Linked DNA regions of Homo sapiens. The protein of the gene in region 5 interacts with the protein of the main gene of each other region in a biochemical or structural test. Each region holds a gene or a part of one and is shown on either strand. Other genes may lie near its edges. The genes, in order: KCNV1, CFTR, TJP1, AKAP10, GRIP1, PRKCA and PDGFRB.

Evidence for each region.
Region 1: the proteins of GRIP1 (region 5) and KCNV1 interact in a test that uses a peptide from one of them, tested with the Homo sapiens proteins (one large-scale study listed by IntAct).
Region 2: the proteins of GRIP1 (region 5) and CFTR interact in a test that uses a peptide from one of them, tested with the Homo sapiens proteins (one large-scale study listed by IntAct).
Region 3: the proteins of GRIP1 (region 5) and TJP1 interact in a test that uses a peptide from one of them, tested with the Homo sapiens proteins (one large-scale study listed by IntAct).
Region 4: the proteins of GRIP1 (region 5) and AKAP10 interact in a test that uses a peptide from one of them, tested with the Homo sapiens proteins (one large-scale study listed by IntAct).
Region 6: the proteins of GRIP1 (region 5) and PRKCA interact in a test that uses a peptide from one of them, tested with the Homo sapiens proteins (one large-scale study listed by IntAct).
Region 7: the proteins of GRIP1 (region 5) and PDGFRB interact in a test that uses a peptide from one of them, tested with the Homo sapiens proteins (one large-scale study listed by IntAct).

What each region holds. Positions count from the first base shown.
Region 1 is NC_000008.11:109,972,972-109,977,033, reverse strand, and holds the start of KCNV1 (potassium voltage-gated channel subfamily V member 1), read left to right. Parts: upstream 1-1,262; 5' UTR 1,263-1,415; intron 1,416-1,841; 5' UTR 1,842-2,645; coding exon 2,646-3,106; intron 3,107-4,062. UniProt on the Homo sapiens protein: Potassium channel subunit that does not form functional channels by itself. Modulates KCNB1 and KCNB2 channel activity by shifting the threshold for inactivation to more negative values and by slowing the rate of inactivation.
Region 2 is NC_000007.14:117,609,025-117,612,524, reverse strand, and holds part of CFTR (cystic fibrosis transmembrane conductance regulator), read right to left. Parts: intron 2,007-3,500; coding exon 1,856-2,006; intron 945-1,855; coding exon 717-944; intron 1-716. UniProt on the Homo sapiens protein: Epithelial ion channel that plays an important role in the regulation of epithelial ion and water transport and fluid homeostasis. Mediates the transport of chloride ions across the cell membrane.
Region 3 is NC_000015.10:29,714,469-29,717,968, forward strand, and holds part of TJP1 (tight junction protein 1), read right to left. Parts: intron 2,371-3,500; coding exon 2,143-2,370; intron 1-2,142. UniProt on the Homo sapiens protein: TJP1, TJP2, and TJP3 are closely related scaffolding proteins that link tight junction (TJ) transmembrane proteins such as claudins, junctional adhesion molecules, and occludin to the actin cytoskeleton.
Region 4 is NC_000017.11:19,967,829-19,971,328, forward strand, and holds part of AKAP10 (A-kinase anchor protein 10, mitochondrial isoform 1 precursor), read right to left. Parts: intron 634-3,500; coding exon 586-633; intron 1-585. UniProt on the Homo sapiens protein: Differentially targeted protein that binds to type I and II regulatory subunits of protein kinase A and anchors them to the mitochondria or the plasma membrane.
Region 5 is NC_000012.12:66,462,577-66,466,076, forward strand, and holds part of GRIP1 (glutamate receptor-interacting protein 1), read right to left. Parts: intron 2,847-3,500; coding exon 2,699-2,846; intron 518-2,698; coding exon 348-517; intron 1-347. UniProt on the Homo sapiens protein: May play a role as a localized scaffold for the assembly of a multiprotein signaling complex and as mediator of the trafficking of its binding partners at specific subcellular location in neurons.
Region 6 is NC_000017.11:66,802,613-66,806,112, reverse strand, and holds part of PRKCA (protein kinase C alpha type), read right to left. Parts: intron 2,241-3,500; coding exon 2,076-2,240; 3' UTR 1-2,075. UniProt on the Homo sapiens protein: Calcium-activated, phospholipid- and diacylglycerol (DAG)-dependent serine/threonine-protein kinase that is involved in positive and negative regulation of cell proliferation, apoptosis, differentiation, migration and adhesion, tumorigenesis, cardiac hypertrophy, angiogenesis, platelet function and inflammation, by directly phosphorylating targets such as RAF1, BCL2, CSPG4, TNNT2/CTNT, or activating signaling cascade involving MAPK1/3 (ERK1/2) and RAP1GAP.
Region 7 is NC_000005.10:150,145,846-150,149,345, reverse strand, and holds part of PDGFRB (platelet-derived growth factor receptor beta isoform 1 precursor), read left to right. Parts: intron 1-3,500. UniProt on the Homo sapiens protein: Tyrosine-protein kinase that acts as a cell-surface receptor for homodimeric PDGFB and PDGFD and for heterodimers formed by PDGFA and PDGFB, and plays an essential role in the regulation of embryonic development, cell proliferation, survival, differentiation, chemotaxis and migration.

The DNA.
Region 1 (4,062 bases), on a different chromosome or scaffold from region 5:
AGTTAACCAAATGGATGGCTGTCAAAAGAACCATGCTTATAAATATTATAGTTTAAAAAAGTTTATTGAAGTCCCCCATTTATTCTCAGAGGATTACTATAAGCTCCACAACAACAGAGATCTTGTCTATTCTTCATTGATACATCGCAAGTACCTTGAATAGTGCCAGTATATAGTGAATGCTCAGTAAACTTTTGTTGAAAGAGTGATGAAAATACCTCATTAAACTCCTGTCCTTCATTAGAAACTTGTAAACAAAGAAAATAAAAACAATCACACTGATTTATCAACAAAAAATAATGTTTCTAGAATTTTGTTTATGAAGGCAGCCTCTGACATGTAGTCCTGGGTTTGATTTGAACTGTGTGGCCCTTTGCAAATCACTTAATTTCCCTGTGCCTCACTTTTCCTTTCTGTAAAATGGATATATGCTACCTCATAGTGTTGTCATTATGATTAAATAAGGTACTGCATGAATAAAGAGCCTACAAATTTCCTGGCATAAAGTAAGCACCCATTAAATGTTGGGTGTTTTCATTAAAGCTTGAAATTTCACTGAGGAAGGCACTGAGACCCTCAAAGTAAATGATAGCTAGACGTCCCACAGCCAGTTGGCAAAGCTAGAACTAAACAGTCACGTTTCTGTCCAATCTATGAAAAAGCTTATTCTACTACATCAGGCTGCCTGCTTATGTCTTTATATATACTACCTAATACGTGTGTGTGTGTATGCTTTCTAATATATACTTATATATGTAAGTGTATCCATAATATATGCTTTCCAATATGTATTCTATATATACATACTAGAAAACAACGAAGATGAGTGTGGTTCACTCTCTCTGGCAAAGACTTGAAAAATGCATGATTCTGAGATGCCTGCTGAAAATGTGAAAACCTTGAACCATGCCAAATGAAGCAGTTAATATAACTGCCCTAACCTCAAGTTTAGCACACTGATCCAGTTGGAAATTTTGCTCTGGAGCATTTACAAAAGCACAGATCCGGGGAAACGGGAATCAAATGCAGTAATTCTGCAAGTGTATTCAGGATGAATGTAATATTGAGTGTCACCGGGCACCTCACTACCCCCCGCCTCCACCCCCGCCGTCTCACCTCCCTCCCTTAGATCCTGCCACTCCCCTCTGCTGGTGCTGGAAGCACTGGGCGAGTGGCTCTCAGAGCTAGAGCGGGCGGGGCGGACACGCTTAGCGTAAGCGCAGGGGCCAGGAGCCCGGAGGGAGGTGGAGGCGGGGCAAGGCAAGGCAGCAGGCGCTGGGTAGAGCTCAGCTGGAACACAGTTTCCCTCCTGGACCGGTCGAGTCAGACCTCACGTGTAGACTAAGAGGATCAAAAGAAGAGTACGTTACCTGCGGCGCCGGTTGTGCGCAGACCAGATGTGCCGGGAGCTGCAGGTGAGTCACTTGCTCTTCCCTCCCACCCCCACCTCCTCACCCCGAGTCCAACAGGTTGGCTGGAGCGCAGCTTCCAGGGGCCCCGTGGGTACACTTCTAGTCTCACCTGGGCGCTGGCCTCGGCTTCTCCCTTTACCGAGGGAGGCCGTCGTTACTATTTAAATTCCTGCCCCAGCCCACGCTTGTTCTATTCCTTGTCTTTTTGCCTTTCCTTCTAAAATGAGAGCTCCGCTGTGCTCAGAACACCTGCTCTCCGGGAAACTTGTAGGGACAGAAATGGTTAAAAGGAAGGGTGCCTCAAAAAAGTGCCTCAACACGAGGTGGACCCTCGACAGGGTGGGAGCTGACAGTGACACTCCTAGTTCTTAGTGACCCACTGGGTCTTCAATAAAAAGTCATCATTAATTATTCTTGTTTCTCAACCAGGAGGTCAGAACCTAAGGGAGACGGCGGAAGAAAATGGAGCGTCAGTGATCATCAGACTAGAATGAGAGTGAATTGGGAGAAAATGGTGCGGCCCCCTCACCCAGAGAACCCTCCCCCACCTGCTCACACCCCCAGCGAACACCCCGGGGGAGGCCTATGAAGCAGCAGTAAAAGAAAAGGGAGGAATATAAATTCTCAAGTTGGAAGGGACCCGGTTACCACTTCCTTTGCTTTCTGAACTTTTTGTTTTGGTCTCCTGCGGGCAGGAGTGAGTCTCGCCATCCCCCTTGCTTGCTTGCTTGCTTGCGTTCAGCTAAGAGTCATCTTCTCTCCTCTTCCTCCTCCTCCGCCCCACATCTCCCTCCTTCCTCCCTTCCCCAACCCCTCCACCCACCAAGTAGCGAGTCATTCAATCTGTACACCTCCTGGGCTGGGAATCGCAATTGCGAAGTTGGGAGGCGGGGTGACAACGTTTGGGAAGGGCCAGGGCGACCGGCAGTGTGCACAGGGACTGTGTCGGGCTTGGACCTCACCTGATCCTCTCTCTTAGCGCGACCCTTCCTCTGCTCCCTGTCTCCTCTTTCTGCCACTTGTGCGCTGCTTCCGCGCACTCCCGGCTCCCTAGCGGCAGGAGGAGGAAGGCGCACAGCGGGTGGAGAGGGTGCGCCAAGGAGAGGTAACCCCTTCGGGAGCCCGGGGAATCCCGGCCGCCACCAGGGGCCGTGCCACCGCCCTCGCGGGACCAAAGCTTCCGGCGTGTCCCCAACTTTGTGGCGCCCTCAGGCCGCGGCGACTGGGTTAGAGATGCCTTCCAGCGGCAGAGCGCTGCTGGACTCGCCGCTGGACAGCGGCTCCCTGACCTCCCTGGACTCTAGTGTCTTCTGCAGCGAGGGTGAAGGGGAGCCCTTGGCGCTCGGGGACTGCTTCACGGTCAACGTGGGCGGCAGCCGCTTCGTGCTCTCGCAGCAGGCGCTGTCCTGCTTCCCGCACACGCGCCTTGGCAAGCTGGCCGTGGTGGTGGCTTCCTACCGCCGCCCCGGGGCCCTGGCCGCCGTGCCCAGCCCTCTGGAGCTTTGCGACGATGCCAACCCCGTGGACAACGAGTACTTCTTCGACCGCAGCTCGCAGGCGTTCCGATATGTCCTGCACTACTACCGCACCGGCCGCCTGCATGTCATGGAGCAGCTGTGCGCGCTCTCCTTCCTGCAGGAGATCCAGTACTGGGGCATCGATGAGCTCAGCATCGATTCCTGCTGCAGGGACAGGTACCCCGGAGGCACGCGGCGGCTGGGCGGGGAGGCGGGCGCGGCAGAGAAAGAGAGGAAGGCACAGGTAGATTTGAGGCTTTACACAAGCTTCGCTGGAGCCAGGCCTAGCAATAAGGTGTGGCCACTTCTGGGCTGACAGGTGGGGTGGGGGTGGGGGACTGGAAAGCATCAACGCCAACTTTTGAATAGAACTTTTTGAATCTCTTTGTTCCCTTTTTTGAGTATGCTAATTTAACGTATAAGGCAAGGGACTTCAGGCCCACAATAAATATTTGGTGACTGAATAAATGAATCAGAAACGCCATGCTCCAAAAATGCATGCATAGGGATAAAAGATTTGGCACGCAGCATTATCATTTATCAAACCTAGAACACTGACTTTGAAAAACTTGAATGGAGAATTGTTTTAAATATAGAAGATAAAAGGTTGGTCCCTTGATTGAATGATTGTGGAACTCTGAGGTTACCTTGCTATTACTACCATTTCTTCATGAATACATTTCCTTTACACACACACAAAAAAGTTCCACCTGCCAAACATCTGTTCTTACCAGAAAATGGGTAATAAAATGTATTAATCCAAAGTAGCTTTACTATGTATACACTTCTACTAAGAAAGTGTCATTTTAAAAATTATAATCCAGGCCGGTCGTGGTGGCTCACGCCTGTAATCCCAGCACTTTGGGAGGCCGAGGCGGGTGGATCACTTGAGGCCAAGAGTTCGAGACCCCCCCTGGACAACATGGTGAAACCCTGTCTCTACTAAAAATACAAAAATTACCCGGGGGTGCTGGTGGTGCGTACCTGTAATCCCAGCTACTCAGGAGGCTGGGGCAGAAGAATCGCTTGAACCTGGGAAGCGGAGGCTACAGTAAGCCGAGATCACTCCGCTGCACTCCAGCCTGGGCGACAGAGCAAGACTCCGTCTCAAAAAAAAAAAAAAAAGGAAAAAT
Region 2 (3,500 bases), on a different chromosome or scaffold from region 5:
AAATTAGAGAAACAAATTTACCTACATAGATTTTTATTTTACTTATTATGAAATACTTTGTTTTTCACTAAAGATCCTAAAATCAATCCAGAACATTTGTATTTGAAAAACATGGCACTTTCTTTTCTTCTTTTTCTTTTGAAAAATGTGACACTGTCTTTCTTTTCTGTGACAGTTTTTCTTTGTGTAAAACTCACAATTAGATAACAAATTTTATCTAGTAGAGATTTAAAAAAAACAAAACTTACCGACAAGAGGAACTCTGTGTGTGTGTGTGTGTGTGTGTGTGTAAATGCGGATGTTTCATTTCCCCTCTTTAGGAATCTATTAATTTTGAAGCTAGGACCCTTCACCAATATGAGTATGAAGAGGTGACATATTTCCCCTTCAATCACAGAATTGCTATCTGACAATCTGTGTGCATCGGTTTTTAAAACTGTGAAAACAGGGATAATACTATATATATATATGTATATATATATATATATATATATATATATACATATATATATATATATCCGATTTCAAGGAAATTATTTGTTTAACAATAAAACAATGGAAATTCAAAGAAATCACTTGTTCAATAATAAACCAACAAATTTGTTAATTACTAAACTCTAAAGATATCAAAAATTGATAACCTATAGAATGCAGCATTTTATTCATTGAAAATTTTTTACTTAAATGCTTAGCTAAAGTTAATGAGTTCATAGTACCTGTTGTTAAAATGGAAATGAAGGTAACAGCAATGAAGAAGATGACAAAAATCATTTCTATTCTCATTTGGAACCAGCGCAGTGTTGACAGGTACAAGAACCAGTTGGCAGTATGTAAATTCAGAGCTTTGTGGAACAGAGTTTCAAAGTAAGGCTGCCGTCCGAAGGCACGAAGTGTCCATAGTCCTTTTAAGCTTGTAACAAGATGAGTGAAAATTGGACTCCTGCCTGTGAAATATTTCCATAGAAAACATTGCAAATAACATAAACACAAAATGTAATTTCATAATATCTTGTACCTGAAAAAGACTAAATTAGAATAATCATATCACAAATGTCATTGGTTAAAAAGCTTTTTTTCACACTGGTGCCATTCTTTGAATAGATATGATTTGTTATTTTATTAATGAGTTACCCTCTTTTTTTACTTGGCTACCAGAGATGGGAACTTAAAAAATTACCACCAATATTTATTCCTCTTTCTTGGCTACCACTGGGAGTTTTCTGGCTAATTCTAAATTAATTCTTACTAAAAAAATTTTCTTTTAAGACAATTTTTTCAAGTATCTAAATTAAGGAAGTTTATGTGACTTGATTTAGCTAATAATCTACAAAGCAGAAATATACTGAAAAAGTATTGCCTGAAAATGCACCCACACTAAGGCTGTCACTGCAAAATGTGATTCCCTAACAGCTCAAGTAGAGTTTGGGGGCACACGAAATGGCAGCTCCAACACATGAAGAAAGGGTGTCTGAAGACAACAAGCCAAAGGGACAAATTTGGTCAAGTATCATTTGGGAACCCAGAGAAACCTTTAGTAATAGCAGCACTATCCTTGTTTAATTTGACTGATATAAGTTTATTATAAATGAATGTCCTGTACACCAACTGTGGTAAGATTCTATATACCTATTTTAAAACCAAAATGAAGTCACATGGTCATTAATTAAGAAAAAAAATCCATGTGTACTTTGTAATATAGTTTCCTTTTATATACACATGCATGTAGAAAAAAATTATTGTTATATGATGTAAAAGTTTAAAAGCAGAATTTTTTTTAAGTAGATTAACAATAAAGAATCTCAAATAGCTCTTATAGCTTTTTTACAAGATGAGTATCGCACATTCACTGTCATACCTTCAGATTCCAGTTGTTTGAGTTGCTGTGAGGTTTGGAGGAAATATGCTCTCAACATAATAAAAGCCACTATCACTGGCACTGTTGCAACAAAGATGTAGGGTTGTAAAACTGCGACAACTGCTATAGCTCCAATCACAATTAATAACAACTGTAAGATCAAAGAAAACATGTTGGTGAGTAAACATTTTCACATTGCAAAGTGGACAAAGTGTGTCAGTGATTTATTTCTTTTTTTTTTTTTGCATACTTTAAACACCTCAAACTTTTTTTTATTTTTTTTATTATACTTTAAGTTTTAGGGTACATGTGCACATTGTGCAGGTTAGTTACATATGTATACATGTGCCATGCTGGTGCACTGCACCCACTAACTCGTCATCTAGCATTAGGTATATCTCCCAGTGCTATCCCTCCCCCCTCCCCCCACCCCACAACAGTCCCCAGAGTGTGATATTCCCCTTCCTGTGTCCATGTGATCTCATTGTTCAATTCCCACCTATGAGTGAGAATATGCGGTGTTTGGTTTTTTGTTCTTGCGATAGTTTACTGAGAATGATGTTTTCCAATTTCATCCATGTCCCTACAAAGGACATGAACTCATCATTTTTTATGGCTGCATAGTGTTCCATGGTGTATATGTGCCACATTTTCTTAATCCAGTCTATCATTGTTGGACTAAATACTCTCCCCATTCTATTCCTAGTCAGAAAGTAGCCATTTGCAAGTACATTTTTCATAGGCTCTATGAAAATTTTAAAAATTGTTTAGGTCACTGATAACATTTTTGAAGTTTGAAAACATGGTGTTCTTTGATCTTTGGATATTTTCATTTCCCAGACACTTTAAAGTATTGCATGATAAATACATTTTAAGTGAATATTAATTTAAAATAAACTATTTTTAAATAATTTTAGTATGAAGGTGAATCTTAGGATTTATTTTGGTTAGACAGTTTTTGAAAGCTGGGCATTCGTCTTGGAGTCTTTTGATTCAGAAAGTTCTGCTTGAAATACAAGCTTGTCATTTAGGCAAGCTATCTAACCTTTCGGAGCATATTTTCTCATGCTTAACATTGAAATAAATCATACTTAATAAATTTCTATATTTCTACATTACACCAAATACATACATTTTTAAAAGGTACAAAGTCCGCTAACATGTACTTCACAATAATCCATTTGAATAAAGTATAAAGTAACTGTCTGCAGAAAGGATTAAAAAAAACCACTTTATAATATCCATATGCTGTTCAGTGAGCCAGTTCTCTACCCGTTACCATAAGTGACACATGTATTTTCAACTGATATAACTTTAGAACTGAAAGGGACCATTATCAGGTTTATATTCCCCATTCTACAAGTGACAAATCTGAGACCCTTCAAGATAAGTGTCTGCTCAAGGTAAAATAGTGGGAATCTGTAGAAAATAACCAAGATTTTCAATTTTCACTATACAGTGCTCCAATCCGGAAAGCAAATTTGTCAGAACATTGTCAAAGTTAGAAAATAGAATGAAGATTACATGAGGTATCAAAATACTCAAACTCAAAGAAGCAAAGAACAGAACCATGGGTAACAGGACAGGGGAGAGAGGGAAATGGGGAGATACTAATCAACAGGTATAAAATTTCAGTAGTGCAAAA
Region 3 (3,500 bases), on a different chromosome or scaffold from region 5:
ACCTCATGATCCACCCACCTCGGCCTCCCAAAGTGCTGGGAGTACAGGCGTGAGCCACTGCGCCCAGCCTTTTTTTTTTTTTTTTTTTTTGAGACAGAGTCTCACTCTGTTGCCCAAGCTGGAGTCCAGTGGCACGATCTCGGCTCACTGCAAGCTCTGTCTCCCGGGTTCACGCCATTCTCCTGCCTCAGTCTCCCGAGTAGCTGGGACTATAGGAGCCCGCCACCACGCCCCGCTGATTTTTTTGTATTTTTAGTAGAGATGGGGTTTCATCGTGTTAGCCAGGATGGTCTCGATCTCCTGACCTCATGATCAGCCTGCCTTGGTCTCCCAAAGTGCTGGGATTACAGGCACGAGCCACTGCGCCTGGCCATATAATCTTTTTAAGGTTGTATTCTATTTACCAAATATGTAAAACGATAAATAAGAGATATCTTTAAACTAAACACCTGAGCCTTCTTCTGACAGGAATGAATGTGTTTAACGGTGTTTAGTAAAAATAATAACTAAAGGGTACACCCTTCTGCCTTACCAAAGGTGAGCTCCTATGGCTCAGTGCCTAGCTCACTTTAGGCTAGTCACCATTTAGATGTTACTGTGATAACTGTGTAAATGAATTCCTGTAACACTGTAAATGTAAATGAATTCCTAATGACAAATCCACATCTGTTTTTGTTCTTGTGGGTTTTGTTCTGTTGAGGTATGAACCCAGCTGTGCACCTGTGTGGGTTTATATTGTGCTAGCTCACTTCAGTCCAGACACCATCTAGATGCCACAACCCCTTTCTAGTGTTGTGCTAAGGGGTGGTTCACAACACTAGTACAAGACACGTTTTGCATTTAATACAACCCCCACTGCAGCACTCTCAGTTTGCATTTGGATTCTCATAAACTGCTTTCTTCTGTAAACATAAAGCCTTAAATATAGGACAGTGAAAAAAGTCTTCACTACAAAGGATGTCTTAGAAAAAAGCAGTGGTAATTAAAATTAGGTTTTAATGTTAGTGGTTTTAAAGTATGTTCTAAAACAATTTACACTCAATAGTAAATGACAAATAGGTCATTTCCCAAGATAATCCCAAGCCCACGCAACTAAGTAAGGAAAAATCTAGGTGCTTTTAATATAGACACAATACTATGTGTGATGAATTCTAATATGTCAATCTGGCTAGGTACTGCCATGAAGGGATTTTTCAGGTGTAATGTCCCCAAGTCAGTTGAGGGGAGATGGTCTTGGGAGGGCCTGGCCTAATCAGCAGAGCCCTCTGAATGAGAATTTAGGCCTTCCCTGATCTCACACTCCCCAGTAGCTCAAAATCTTCCCTTCCTGACCAACTGCCCTCTGAAATAGGACTTGCTTAGCCAGCCCCTGTAACTGTGTAAATGAATTTCTTTTGACAAATCCACATCTGTTTTTGTTCTTGTGGGTTTTGTTCTATTGAGGTATGAATCTACCTGTGTGCCCGTGTGGGCTTAGACACAACTATCAGTACCAAATTCTCTTATCAGTCAGGGTTCAACCAGAGACACAGAACCAGTAGGAGACACAAACCCACGCAGGCACAAGAAAGGAGAACAAACCAACACGAAACCCAGGGATGAGTAAACGGAGGGGAGCAGCAAGCACAGGGAAAAGATGACTGGGAGTCAAGAAACTTGGGGTTCAGTCCCAGCTCTGCCCTGTCATTTTCCCTCACCTGTAAAACTGGATCAGAAATCTTACAAAAACAAAAAACAAAAAACCTCTTCAGTATTTCCCTCAAACAGGATCCTCCTCACATCTGTATTTATATTTAAAAAATAAAAACAGAAAAGAAAAAGAACCAGCATGACATCATTAGGTGTGTGTACAGAAGTGAAGACTGATGATTACCTATCGATGAGGGTCCTTGTGGTTGACACTGTCTTCCGTCAAAACCCTGTGATGTTAGCATCTTTGTGAATGCAAAAACTATGTACATCTAATAGCAGACTTTAAAAACAAAACACACATCCCAGAACTAAAAAGTATGTACAATGCTGAACCACTAGAGCCTACAGAAATCATATATTACACTTAAATTATTTTTCTTCAAAATATATTGAACTGCACGGGATTAATATGCTGCATCCTATTTTTAAAAGCCAGGTGAAATAGCTTACTTTGAAGAATAACTAGAAAAATTTGATTGATTCTGAGAATGCGCTGGCTTTGCAGGCTCGGAGAGATGGCTGGCGGCAATGTGTGCAGGAGGCTTATTCTCAAAACTTCTTCGGTCAAAGTATGACAGCTGTTTTCGATAATATTCTTCATCTTCTTCAGGGTCATAATGATTGGACCGAACAATATCTTCAGGTGGCTTCAGTTGAGGTTTTTGAGGTTCTGGGATCCTAACAGATAATGAATGACAAACGGAACACCTTTTTAAATATTAATGTTATGAAGGAAGTAGAATATGTAAGTCTTATCTTGACTAAAAGGTCAATAATTACTAACTGCTGTGATTACTGAGGATCTGAGCAGTCCCAACAGTTAAAATGGATATTTCAAATCCCATGTCCTCACAGAGTATACTCAAAAGGCAGCCCCCTTCTGGCTCATGAGTCCTTTAACACAATATAATAAGCTAAACGATTACATGATTAGGGAACAGCAGGTTAGAAGTAGTTAATCAGAAAGACAAAGGGCAATGTAACCGAGACAGTGAACATCTTGAGAAGTACATATACCAAGGTCAAGAACAGTAAATGATAGACTTTAAGAACTTTCAAAGGGATTTTTAAGAACTCAGTCCAGGATCTCAATGATTCTCATATGAACAAATAACTCTATATGGTCTAAAGTTCTAGAAGGCATACAAAGCAGATGAGGAAGAAAGCAAGTCATTAAGTAAATTCATATTAGACAGTTCTCTTCTTTATCCTAAGTGCAAACATATATTCAGTCAAAAAACAAAATCAGAAGAGCTGTATTCAAATCTAATCTGTCACTTATTGGCAGTGCAATGAGGCCATGGGAAAAAGCTCAGGCTGAGGAGCAGCAGGCCAGGTTTCTCTTCCAGCTCTAAGTCTTGTAAGCTACTTGCCCCTCTCAGCCTCAGTGTCTCTCTCTACAATGCAGAACAACAACAGTGTCACCTCATTATGCTGATGTGCTTAGCACAAGGGCAAGCACCTTATGCATGCTCACTAAATGATTTAGTTATCTTAACCAATCTGAGTCTGTTTCCTCACCACTGGAAACTAAGAGTTCACATGTCGAAAAGCACTTTTAAAACTAAAAAACATAATACAAATGTCAGAGCTTAAAAATGTTTATTTAATCATCTGCTTGGAGAATATCTTTCCGAAAGTCTGCTAAAGGTATAAAGATTTGTCAGATTTGTCAGAAATAAAGTTCTACTTTTTTTCCCCCTAGAATCACTGTTTAGGAGAGCTGATAGTTTTTATTTAAGGACAAACTCCTCCTATTCACACCTCTCCTCTACTAACACAGTAAAAGGTTTTCTTATTGACTAAGA
Region 4 (3,500 bases), on a different chromosome or scaffold from region 5:
GCCGAGATGGCACCACTGCACTCCAGCCTGGGGATAAGAGCAAGACTCCATCTCAAAAAAATAAAATTAAGGTAAAAAAAGCCTACTTACGGCCGGGTGCGGTGGCTCACGCTTGTAATCCCAGCACTTTGGGAGGCCGAGGCGGGCGGATCACAAGGTCAGGAGATCGAGACCATACTGGCTAACATGGTGAAACTCTGTCTCTACTAAAAAATACAAAAAATTAGCCAGGCGTGGCGCCGTGCACCTGTAGTCCCAGCTGCTGGGGAGGCTGAGGCAGGAGAATGGTGTGAACCCGGGAGACAGAGCTTGCAGTGAGCCAAGATCGCGCCACTGCACTCCAGCCTGGGTAACAGAGCAAGACTCCGTCTCCAAAAAAAAAAAAAAAAAAAAAGCCTACTTATTATATGCTAGATGTTAAAGCATTATACAGGTTAAAGAGGGAAATAAATCAAAATCATAAGTAATTATAAAATAAGGCAGAAATGATTAATGCCAAAAGAGAGAGTATAACAGGATTAAAGAACTCACAAATGCAAAGCACATCACTTTTTAATGCAGTGGACTGCCAAGGGCAGAACTTACCTTTAATGGACTTCACATCTGAGGTCTTCTCTTGTTCTTTGCCTTTCACTAGAACATAAAAAGATAATTATGACCAACTTTTGCAGTCAGAGATCCATTCTATAACACTGTAAAAATTAGACCAGCTTTATTCTAAGATGAGTATTCAAAGTTCTAGAACAATGGACAGCCTTGGAGGAGGGCACAGGAGGGTAGTTGTCAGCAAAGGCTTCTCTAAGGAAGTGACCTTGGAACAGCATCCAGTCAAAAGAGTTGAACCTGCTTATGGAGAGACAATGTAGTCACAACATCTGGGGTCAAATTCTGGCTCTACCACTTATAAGCCATGTGATCTTGGACAAGTTACTTACTTCTCTGGGTCTTAATTTTCTTGATTTATAAAATTAGGTCAATAATAAAAACTACCTTAGAGGATTATTGATGAAAAAAAATATATACCTGTAAGGGGCTTAGAAGAGTAACTAGCACAGTAAATTGAGGACAAATGCTAACCAATATTATTACCATGTGTCATCCATAGTACTAGCTACTAGAAGCATAGTGAAGAAAGGTCTTTGGTTGTGTATCATATCTTATTACTTATTCCTCCCATAGCATCAAGTGAAAACATCCTAAGCCTCTAACACTCAGAGTATAATAATTTGTCTGGGCCAGGCACGGTGGCTCACGCCTGTAATTCCAGCACTTTGGGATGCCAAGGCGGGTGGATCACCTGAGGTCAGTAGCTCAAGACCAGCCTGGCCAACATGGTGAAACCCCATCTCTACTAAAAATACAAAACAATGAGCTGGGTGTGGTGGCGGACACCTGTAAGCCCAGCTACTTGGGAGGCTGAGGCAGAGAATTGCTTGAACCCAGGAGGCGGAGGTTGCAGTGAGCCGAGATCGCGACACTGTACTCCAGCCTGGGAGACAAAGAGAGACTCCGTCTAAAAAAATAAAAGATAAAGAATAATTTGTCTGTAAAATAATCATATAATTGCTTCCTTACTACATAAAACAGTAAAAATTCTGCTGTAGATAAGCTAATATGACATCCAAGATAGGAAGGTGCCCAGCAGCTTAAGCCAAGTGTGAATTCTATCACAGGATCTGACATAAGACTATTTTTAACCCTCTTTTCTTGTTTTTTTTTTTCAACATTAAAAAATCTTACCAGGAAAAGGTTATCAAAATAAGAAATGCCAAAACGTGCCCATCTCTGTATTTGTGCTCTTAAACATTGAAAGGTGAAAGGCTAGTAGCAGGAAATAACTCGCCCTCAGAGTATCTGGATGAAGTCAATACATCAACTGTTGAGTGCTTGGTATGTGCCAGACATGCTCCCAGCTCAGAAAAGGCAATGATTTTGCCTTCAAAAAGTCTACATTCAAGTGTGTGGAGACTAACATGAAAAAAATAAATAAGATCGTTGCAGGTACTGATCACTGCTGTCAGGAAGACGACATTTAAAAATGTTGTAGGGTCACTGGTGTTTGCAGCCCTCTCAGCAGCATCTGCCCATGGACTACATCACTCACTTTAAACATTAACTTGTCTTGGCTTCCTTGACTCCTCTCTTCTGCATATACATCTGTATTTCCTGGCTGATCCTACCCATTCTTAAGGCTTACAATACCATAGATACGCTGTTACTCCTAAATTTATATCTCCATCCTAAATCTTTTATCTCAAATTCATATAGCTAACCACCTACCTGCCATCTTCCATAATTCCACTTGTCTAAAAGGGAACATGTCATCTTCTCCCAAACCTGTTCCTACCTCAGTCTTCATCTTCCCTCATGAATGACACTGTCATCCACCCACTACTCAGACCAAAATTCCGGAAGTCATCCTTAACATGGTCTGTTTATTACCTTCCACATACAAACTATGACCAACTGATTCTACTGCCAAAACAAACCACCACGGTTCCACTTTTACCACCTAAAAACATTCTCCTACTATCAATCAGATCTCCTATGTTATACTTCTAACATATACACAACTCAACAATCAAATATCAGCATTTTGCTTTATTTCCTTCTGTCCCCCTAAGTATTATACATAGACTTTAGAGTTCCTATGAATCACCACCTGACCCTTCCTTTCCCAGATATAAATACTTACTAAATTAGATATTTCCTGGCCAAGCGCAGTGGCTCACACCTGTAATCCCAGGACTTTGGGAGGCCAAGGCGGGTGGCTCACTTAAGGTCAGGAGTTCGAGACCAGCCTTGCCAACATGGTGAAACCCTGTCTCTACTGAAAACACAAGAATTAGCAGGGTGTGGTGGCGGGTACCTGTAGTCCCAGCTACTTAGAAGGCTGAGGCAGAAGAATCGCTTGAACCCGGGAGGCCGAGATTGCGGTGAGCTGAGATTACACCACTGTACCCCAGCCTGGGTGACAGAGCAAGACTCTGTCTTAAAAAAAAAAAAATAAATAAATAAATAAAGACATTTTCCTTCCATGTACGTTTTTTGACTATGACCACATACAAATACTTTTTATTTTTATTTTTTTGAGACACGGTCTTGCTTTGTTGTCCAGGCTAGAGTGCAGTGGCCTGATAACACTCGAACTCCTGGGCTCAAGTGATCCTCTCATGCCACCATACCTAATTATCCTTTCTGTTGTTGAGATGGGGTCTTGCTATCTCGCCCAGGCTAGTCTTGTACACCTGGGCTCAAGTGATCCTCCTGCCTCAGCCTCCCAAAGTGCTGGGATTACAGGTGTGAGCCACCACACCCAGCCAAACGTGTATATATATACATGTATGTGTATTTTTTTTAATGGCATTATTCTGCACATCTTTAAAAATCACGCAAATGGCTGAGCACGGTGGCTCACGCCTGTAATCCTAGCACTTTGGGAGGCCAAGTTGGGTGGAACACTTGAGGTCAGGAGTTCAAGACCAGCCTGGCCAACATGG
Region 5 (3,500 bases):
ACATAACCTTGTTTTGAAAAGAAATGATGAGTCTGACCAACATGGTGAAACCCTGTCTCTATTAAAAATACAAAAATTAGCTGGGCATGGTGGCGGTCACCTGTAATCCCAGCTACTCGGGAGGCTGAGGTAGGAGAATGGCTTGAACCCAGGAGGCAGAGGTTGGAGTCAACCGAGATCATGCTACTGCATTCCAGTCTGGGGGACAGAGTGAGACTCCATCTCAAAAAAAAAAAAAAAAAAAAAAGGCAGAATGAGACCCAGTGTCTTTCTGCTGTCTAACTCTGCTAGAGGGAGCAACACTGTGAGGGCCAGAGAAAGAGCTTGATCCAGGTGGACCATCTCACCATGGTCGGGCCCCTTTAGGGCCAGCCGGGTCTGATGATGGGGAAGGATCTCAAGCTTGACCTGGTCAGTGGTGTTGGCCAGGAACTGGGTTGCTTCTGCAAGTGTACAGTACTCCATGCTGGTTCCATCGATGGAGAGGATGTGATCTCCCACATGCAATGCGCCACATCTACGGAAAGGAGAAATACTCGGTAAGAGGCAGTGCCTTCCTCTTTGGAATCTGACTTTCATGTCCTTCATAGTTAAAATTTCACAGTTTTTCATTTACTTAAAATAAAAGAAAAGAAAAGTTTGAGTGTTATAGGAAACACCATCTGCCAAATTTTAAGTACCTTGAATATGAACAAGGAAGTAAAACCTTGTGGAAAATAGAGAAAAATTCAACGAAATGTTTTCTCTTGTCTTTCTTTAAAAAAAAAATCTTATTTTGGAGTGCTTGTGTGGAAAGTTGAGGGAAAGCGAGCAAGAGGAAAGGGAAAAACAGGAAAATGTTTCCCCTGGACTTTTGTCTGTGTTTTTTTGTTCTAGGCTTTTCTATCTATAAACATGAGTGGGTAAATCTTCAGAATCTCAAACATGACTCTCAGAATTGGAATAGGGTCTATTTTATGTGTAAAGAAGAATAACTTGGGGAGATTTCAGTAATACTTCCTTGGAATCCTCACACAAACTCCAAGATCACCAGTTCTTTATTATTATGTTATTCTGGAGTTGAACATGTATTAGTATAAAAGCTCTTGATAATGGTAGAAATTATGCAGGAGTCAAGTGAGTAATAAAACCAGGCCTGCATGGTGAGTCAAGGGGAAAGATGGGGGCAGGGAAGGGGCTAGCTGCTACATCTTGCTGAACTCAAGAGCTGGCTACTGGATGAGTTAAGAAAAGCTAGCGCAGTCGTCAGCATCCCCACATACCAGTCAAGTGAACAGCTCCTTAAACTGGTTACCCCCTGTGGAATGGGAAAAAACAGAGGGAGAAAATTAAAGCATCCTGTGCCATTGAACTGCACAACACCCCTGGATCAATGGCTGTCACTGATAAGGACTGAATGTTGGGTAAGACCACAATGGAGATGTAGACTGACCACTACGGGGGGTTGCTGCAGTTCACTGCACCATGGCTGGAGGTGGAAAGGCAGGTTGAGGGGCACGTGGAGAAGAGGGCTGGAAACATACAGGGGAGACTGGTCATTCAGGTGCAGTATATCTATAAATTCCCAGTGTGAATAGTCTACGTCTCAAGACAAAAGCATTTCAAGTCATATCTTCCAACTAAAAACATAATTCCACATTTTTTGCACTTGGAGTGCTTTAGCTATGGGAGATGAGGTTTTTCTTACCAGGAGCTGTAAAATAATTAATTAGATGGAAAGGTAGTCTTTTTTTATCTTCCCCTTTTACCTTACGAGTATAAAATATTAATTAGAAACATGAAATTTCATTTTTATTGTGGCATTGAAGCGAATGATGTTTTAAGACACCCTCGAAGGTTGTAAAATCCTAAGATTAACATGCTATGAGAGTATAGGACTTTTTAAAAGTATTGTAAAAAATATTTTAAAAAGTATTGTTTTATTTATTTAAGAAACAAAGAAATCAGATTTTATGGTAGCAGGATTTAATTGTCAACAATTCAGGAAAACCCATCACTGCTCTGCATGGGGTTTAAGAAAGATCTACTCAGCTACCCTACATTAAGAACAGGCTAGTGCCCTAGGACACAGTAAGAAAACTTGCTTAGTTGCTTGATTTTTTTTTCTATTGCTAAAGGCCACACCAAACATCTGGATGACGTGAAGTGACATCATGGGGTGGCTGACACATAGGTGAATTTTTAAGCCCTGTAACAGTAACTTGCTTCTGTGTGTGAAACCTGTATAAACTGGCAAGAGAACTGTGTGTGTGTGTGTGTGTATGTGTATATGCATGTGTATATGTGTATTACAAGTGTGTGTACATATGTATGTATATATATTTAAAATTGCACACATGCAATTTTGTAAAGGGGCACTTTCTTTCTTTCTTTCTTTCTTTTTTTTTTTTTGAGATGGAGTTTCACTCTTGTTGCCCAGGCTGGAGTGCAATGGTTCAGCTCACTGCAACCTCTGCCTCGCGAGTTTAAGTGATTCTCATGCCTCAGCCTCCCGAGTAGCTGGGATTACAGGCACCTGCCACCATGACTGGCTAATTTCTTGTATTTTTAGTAGAGATGGGGTTTCACCATGTTGGCCAAGCTGGTCTCGAACTCCTGACCTCAGGTGATTCACCCGCCTCGGCCTCCCAAAGTGTTGGGATTACAGGCGTGAGCCACTGCGCCTGGCGGAAAAGTAGGCACTTTCTACAATACTTACCTGTCTGCAATACTTGCAGATTTGATTTTGTCTATGACAATGACTTGTTTGTTACAGCACATCGAGGTAGTTAGGGCAACCCCAAGGCTGGCACCAGGAGTTTTGGCAACTTCGACTAGTAGTGGCCCGGATGCTGTTGCCACAGAGTCTGTCAAAGAACAAATTTTAGAAAACAAAACAAATAAAACAAATAAGCAAAGAGACAAAAGAAAGAGATGAAGAATATTCAGTTTGGTGTTAGCCTGTTAATTTTATCACTGAAACTTAGATTTCCCTCCATATAATATCCCCACAGCCAATAATAAATTCATAGGGCACCTCTTAACACACCTGTTCCATTCAGCTTGTATTGTGTTAATGTATGTGTAATGTTCATCTCTTCAATGAGATTTTAAGCTTCATGTCACTTGGGATAATATCTTATGTATCTTTATCCCCTCCACAGTGCTTGGCACAATGCCGAGCATATACTAGGTCTCTCAGTAAAGGTTTTTTAAATTAATTACTTAATTCAATAAATATCTTAGCACCTACCAGGAATAAATAGACGGATGGATGAATGAATGGATGAAAGGATGGATATAAAAAAGAAAGGAAGGAAAGAAGAAAGAAAGGAAGGGAGGAAGGGAGGAAGAAAGAAAAGAAGGATGGATGGGTGGATAAATAAAAGAATGACAAGAGGGATGGGAGGATGAATGGATGGGTAGATAGATAATCAGAAGAATGGATGGATGGATGATGTCTCTAGCCAAGTAGTAGGAATGTTACACTAAGTTGAATTTGTAAAGCTTAACTTCATATA
Region 6 (3,500 bases), on a different chromosome or scaffold from region 5:
ACTCTGAGGACCTTGCATGGGGGTGTCTCACCAAAGCAGCGCGCTCCTCCCAAGACTGGAAAGGCCAATGCCACAATGGCTGGAAGAAAGTCCGCAGCCTCTGAAAAGCACGTGCTGGTGCCTGCAGGGCACGGCTGTGTTGGTCTCACGAAGTTTGTGCATGCTGGAGCAAACGACAGGTCGTTGCAGAGGCAGCAAGACAGCATGCTTCCTGCGTGTCCAGTACACACAGCAAGAGGGGAGTCTCCCCATCCCTCCCACCCCTGGAGTCAGCAACAGTCACAGGCTGAAGGGAAGAAGGAAACACACACACACGCACACACAAAGGTCAGCCCAGGTGCTGCGGCAATGCCACGTGTGTACCAACGTACTAGGCAGACTGGAATCAGACACTTCCTGTTGTCCCCAAGAGGAAGAGTGGCGGAGGAACCAGGACGAAAGGTGACATGAAGAAACTAAGAGGGAGTGTCAGCTCAAAAATAGTCCTCACCAATAAAAATTTGTTTGCAGGTAGAATCAAATACATATATATACACACACATATGTAGTAAGAGCCTAATCTATCACGTAAACTAGCCATTCATTTTTGAAATTTTATCTACATTTAAAAAGTAATCTATCTGATACAGTGCCCATGTGCAGGGAGGGAAAGCACAGAAGCAAGGGATTCAGCTAAAACTTAATTAGAAAAGAGGATTAGAAACAAGAACCTGCACAAATAGAGCACAATTGTGTCTTATAAAATTATTATAATACTCTCTTTATACTTGATACGATTATATCAATAATATAGATTCACTTGTTATTAAGGTTTATTATAAACATGCAAAATTCATTGCATGATGCATTTGCAAAACGTATTAAAATCCTTCTATTAACAAAACATCTTTGAGCTGTTAGGCATCCGGGTTTCCTGATTCTACAGCTCCAGGCCTGTCATTCAACGTGAACTAGAAATGGGAACCAAAACCATATTCTTTTTATCCCTAAGTGGACATCCAGGGCTAGAGAAGGGAGGAAAATCAATCGGTAGAGGCTGATGCTAGAGTCAGCACTTCCATTAAGTTACTGTACATCGTACTTTCATAAGCGACACTGCAGCCTATTAAATAAATAAGCACAAAAGGGGAGAGGGCGTACACTTCAGCTTCTTGAGAAGGATAACAAGGTAGGCAGCAAAATGTTGGTGTGTGTGGGGGTGGGTGTTGGTGAACAACACTGGTGAGTAGTGGCATGATTACTGATGGCACCCTGGATGGAAAAATAATCTCCCAGAGATTAAAATGAACATATGTACACACTGGCTTATCCTTGATCTGAAATGATTTCACACGCTTGTTCAGCAACGTCCTTAGACGATTTGGCCTCTTACAAAGAATGAAAAGTATCAAGACAGTTATCAACCAAGGAGGGTACCAGATGACAGATTCACCCAACACTCATCTGAGGTTTTTTTGTTTAAACTGGTAACTGCTGGACCATGGTTGGGTTAGGATTTGTCAATGTTTGGGAACAGTGATTAGGTTTATCCCGGCCTTTCAGATTCTAGGGGCTGTTTCCATGGAGGCAGAGAATGGACGCAGTCGGTATTTTGAGGCCTCCCCCACCCCCAATCCCTCCCTGCTCACTCTCTTGGCTTCCTGTTCTTGGATTCCAAAGACGTCTTGGGTGGAGATGTTTCCTGGGACAGGCTCACTTTAACATCTCTGGTTGGGGGATTCCAATGCTGAAAAATCCACAGATGGAGGGTATGGAAAGTATATCAAATTGTACCCAAAATGGGGCAACAGTCTGCTTGCTTTCTAGGAAGGGTTAACCTAGAGCCAGACGTAACTTCTACAGAATTAAACTGGACACTGAGCATGACGTACCATCTTCCACTAAGATAATGTTCTTGGTTGTAAGAGAGAGACCCTGAACAGTTGATCACATTTGGACTAATAACCCTACAATTTTCAGGCCTCCATATGGAATCAGACACAAGGCCGTGGCCTTAAAATTTTAGGGTTAAGGATTCACTTCCCACTGCGGGGAGGGCTGGGGGCTGGGGAGGTGTTTGTTCTCGCTGGTGAGTTTCATACTGCACTCTGTAAGATGGGGTGCACAAACTGGGGGTTGACATACGAGAACCCTTCAAAATCAGACTGGTCTATGTTAGCAATAACCAGCTGATCAGGTGGTGTTAAGACGGGCTGTCCTCGTGTGAAGAACTTGTCAAAGTTCTCTGCTCCTTTGCCACACTGTGGAGAAAAGACAAAAAGAAGGAAAGGTCAGTCAACATGACAATGCGGGAGCAGCTCTCCGAGGGCCCTCTCTGGGGAGGGGCACGGCCCTGGGGAACTCCGGGCTGGTTAGGAGGAGGAATCTCGGAGGACTTGCAGGCCTATTGGATTGAAAAGCCAGGCACAGCAGACAACAACGAGTTACCCAACTGTAAACCCTGAAACACCCCGAACAGAAGCCCTGGGTGGGAATTGCACGGCTGGCAATGAGGCAGCAACAAGGGGACAGCCCCTGTCCCCTCACGTCCACCTCACCGAGCAAGCGGAGCTGAGAGCACGGAAGCCACGCACGCAGGGCCGTCAGTCACAGCTCCGTGTTGAAAGGCCAGGATGTCGGCTGGGGCTGCAGGCAGTTACCCCTGGACCAAGCGACGGGGTGAGTTACTGCCCCACATCTGTTTTTTTGCCGCAATATTTGTAGTGAAGTAAAAACTGTGTTATCCTTGCCTTCCTACTGGGCTGCTCCAGCAACCCCAGCCCCTAAATTAAGCTTCAAGCGATATGAGGTAGGTGTGGCGGCAAGGCTGGGAGATTTGCACCTGGCCCAGCTAGGATTTAGCACACCTAGACAGAGCTGGCCAGCGGGCAGGCTGGGTGACTGACTGGAGCTTATTTGCAGGGTGGTCTCAGGCTGGAGGATGTTTGCATGGCGCCCTGGGGAGGCAGGGAGAGGCCTGCTGTCTCGGCTGTTCCTCTCCTCCAGGGTCCACTCCAGGCAGAACTGTTGCACTGGGGTCGCTGAGACACACAGCCGCTTAGGCAGCACGGCTTGGTAGCCTGACCCCAAAAGTGGGGAAGGAGTGTTCTCTTCACCTTGTCAGCCACCCACAAGGGTAGTGGCGTGTTGAAGTCCCCGGGAGCCCAGGGTGACTCTGAAGCAGGAAGAGCTGGGAGTTTCACTAAGGATCCTAAGAATGATTTTCAAGATGCTGCCAATTACTGCCCTTGGACCTGCTGCTAGCACCACAGGGCCAATATGAATTAACTCTGAGCTAGCACACATTTCAAACTAACCAGGCATCCTTGGGTCTCTAACAGAGAATAGCTCTGGATTAACTGTGAAGTGGGGTCCACCAAGTTTGCTCATCTGTAACACTGGGAGAACAATCACACCTCCTGCCCAAGGCTGTCAGGAAGGTGAAATGTATGGGGTTTTGCACAGAACCCAGCCGAGGCGAGAGGCCAGCACGTGCTGCTAGTGTTTTTATAAGGCAGTTG
Region 7 (3,500 bases), on a different chromosome or scaffold from region 5:
AAGAGCCCTGCATTTCCATTTTGTGCTTGCCCCACAAATTATGTAGCTTGTCCTGCCAGGGAGTTCAGGCTGAGTTTGGGACGGCTTCATCCCCAACACTGGCCTTGCAGCCTCCACTGTCCCCATCCTAATCCACAGCCTCCCACTAAATGCCAGCCTGCTGGTGTCATCCTCCTGCATGGAGGCCCCCTCCCCACAGTGCCTGGAGTTACAGCATTGCCCTGCCAAGCCAGCAGCTACTACCCGCCATCACTATCAACACCTTGAAAAGTTGGTGGTCCAGAGAAAATCCTCACACAGCACCGCAGACCTTTCCTGAAGTCTCCCTGCCTCCTTCCCTGGCCTCCTGCTGCCTCCTTCCCAGGCCATCACCTACCTGTTTGCTGAAGAGCCCCAGTTTCTAGCCCAACAGATCTCTCCCTGCCATTTCTCCCAGATGCCTTTCATCTCTCACAGAGCCCTGGCCATACCTTTCCCTGGCATCATCTGCCAAAAAACTCAAGAAACCCTGGAGGCCTAGCTCAAGGCCACCTCCCTCAGGAAGCCATACCCGCTCTCCCCACTGGAGTAATCATATACTGTTGTTAGTCACCATTTACTGGGCACCTATGATGTGCCAAGTGCTGTGCGTCATCATCTCTGGCCCTCCCAGAAATGGAAAAGGAGGTCTCCCATGCCATTTCCCAGGAAATTGGGACTCAGATAAGTTAAACTCAGAGAACTGGGGCTTGGACCCAGGAATAAGTGGCTTCCAGCTGGAACCACTGCTCCCAGCCTGGCGGGGCTCCCATCCCTGCCCTGGATGGCATCAGGCGCAGCCTGTTGGCTTCAGAGTGCCATATGTCTGTTCTGCCCTCACCAGCTCATCTCCATCACCTCCCTGGAAGGAAAGAGTCACCATTGCCTATCCATGCCAGTTCCCTAGCCTAGTGAATCCTGTGTTATTAGGAGGCAGCCGAGGGCCCAGGACTGAAGAGCTGACCCTACAGAGCCATTTAATCTCTCATATCGTGTAAGCGTTTACTGAGCACCTACTGTAGGCCTAATTCCATATTAGGAAGTTGAAGAGAGTCCAGATCGTTGTTAGGTAGGTATCCTGATTTGTGGGAAGTCATATTAAAGGACTAAGACAAAAGTTCAGGAAAGAAGTAATTGACAGACAGTGGTGATTAGATGGGTCTGGCCTTAGGTTGGCCACCGAATCGCCGAGTGTGCTAGGATGAGACACTCCTCACTGAGCCTCAGGACACTGAAAAGGGCTGTTGCTACTGATTGTACCAATAATCAGCAGCTACCTCTTCCTGAGGAGCGTCTTTTGGGAGAGGCCTTCTTGCACCGTCTCATTTATCACATGCATCACTTTGCTGAGAAGCCTAGTCCCGTGGAGTCTTGGCTGTGCGCGCAAGGCCGAGTGAGTGAGTGACTTCTTCTCCCTTGAGTGAATGAATAATAATAATGTGGCCACCAACTTTGCAGAGGGCTGTGTGCCAGGCCCTATTCTAAGCATTTTGCTTGTGTTAACTCCTTCAATAGCCCTGACAACCCAGTGATGAGCCCCAATCTACAGATGAGAAAACTGAGGCACAGAGGGGTGGTTAAGTGAATGACCGAAGACAGGGGTGGGAGGACAGATGCTGAGACAGTGAGAGGGTCAGTGAAACATGGGGGTTCTCTGCCCTCCTGCTCTGCCGCCCAGGAGGGCTCTGAGGGGAATCTCAATGTTTGGTAATTGGCACTGATAAGTGAAGGGTTTACTCATTAGCTAGCTACCCCTCCCCTATTTGCAGGCCCTGGGCCTGTGGGGGAAGGCTGTGTGCTGGTGGGTCAGTGTGAATGGCCCAAGGCCTGCCTGTCCCCTGCCCACTTGGCTCTGAGAACCCATTCTATTTGCGGCCCCCACCCCAGCCCATGGCTGCTCCGGGCTGGCAGCAGCCCGGGGAACAGAAGGTTTGCTTGTCTGCGCCTGCCGCACCCCCCTCCTCAGTCTCAGCCTGGGACCCCTCTCAGGGGCTCCTTTGGCTGCCAAGGGCCTGGCACTCCCTGTTGCCATGGCACCGGCCGGAGATGAGGCTCTGGGGGGTGGGGATGGGGAGGGCAGCAGCAGGATGGTGGAGGCCTGGAACTCTGCAGCTACAGAGGCCCTGGCCCTCTGCAAACAGTGGAAGGGGGTGCTGGGGCCCCCACAGGGGCAGGCCTGGACCCTGTGCACAGCAGGCCTGTGGCAGAGCCGGCCACACACCTGGGCTGATTGCCTGGATGCTGTATCCCGCAGGAGCACTGCCCCTGCCAGACCCTGGCTTTCCTAAGCAAAAACTCTCTCCTCAGCCTTGTGTGCTCACCCTCAGCCTCTGCAGCGAAATTGTGGAGTTCTATCCCTAGTCCTGGGTTCTATCCCTAGCTCGACTTTAAAATTATTGGTGACCCGGGGCAGGCCTCCCGCATACACTGCCCCTCAGTCAGAGCAGAGGCGGGACCCAGATCCCTGAGGATCTTCTCATCCCTGAGATCCTGGATTCCGTATGGACGCCATTAGAGGGAGAACGTTTCTCTGTGGACAGATGGACAGAACTGTTTCTGGTCAGGAGACAGACAGTCTGGCATGACGGGCAAGAATTCAGGTTTTGGCAGTTGTGGTGATGCGCACCTGTAGTCCCAGCTACTCAGGAGGCTGAGGCGGGAGGATCACTTGAGCCCAGGAGTTTGAGGCTATAGTGAGCTGTGAGCTATGATCATGCCACCACACCACTGTACTCCAGCGTGGGCAACAGAGCGAGACCCTGTCTCTAAAAAAAAGAAAGAATATAGGCTTTGGAGTCAGGCCGGCCTGAGTTTGCATTCCCGTTCCTTTGCATCTTACTTATTGTGTGACCTTGGGAAAGTTACCAAAAGTCTCTGAGACTCATCATTCTCCTCTGTAAAATGGGAATAATGAGTGTACCCCCCTCACAGGGTGGTCGTGAGGATGAAACAAAATCTCCAGATCATCTCATTTAGCAGAGTGCCTGGCTCTAAATTAGTAGGGACTTTTGTTTGTTTCCAGATTGGGGGGGATCAGAACAATAACTAGAAAGATGTCCTGTATTTGGGGAGAGGGTGGTTGGTGGATAGAAGCAAGACCAATAAGCAGAGAATACAGTGAGATAAACTGTACTCAGTGTAATTAACAATTCTCAATAGTCTGCCCTCTGAAGATTCTAAGCTGGCTAAGAATGAAATGGGCCACAGGTGAGGTGGTGAGAGCCCTGTCATGGGAGGTGTGCAATTGCAGAGAAGGTGGGGGAGATGTGAATAGAGGGAATGTACTAAGACTGTAGGGCTCTGTGAAAAATGGAGTGACTGTTTCCCACTCAAACTGTCAGCTTCAGCTTTACCCAGCTCAAAAGACAGCGTGAAAGAGTGAAAGGAGAAGTTGGGACAAAGAAGGCGAAAAGATAAGGCTGACGACTTTATTTTTTAATTTATTTTTTTGAGACGGAGTTTCACTCTTGTTGCCCAGGCTG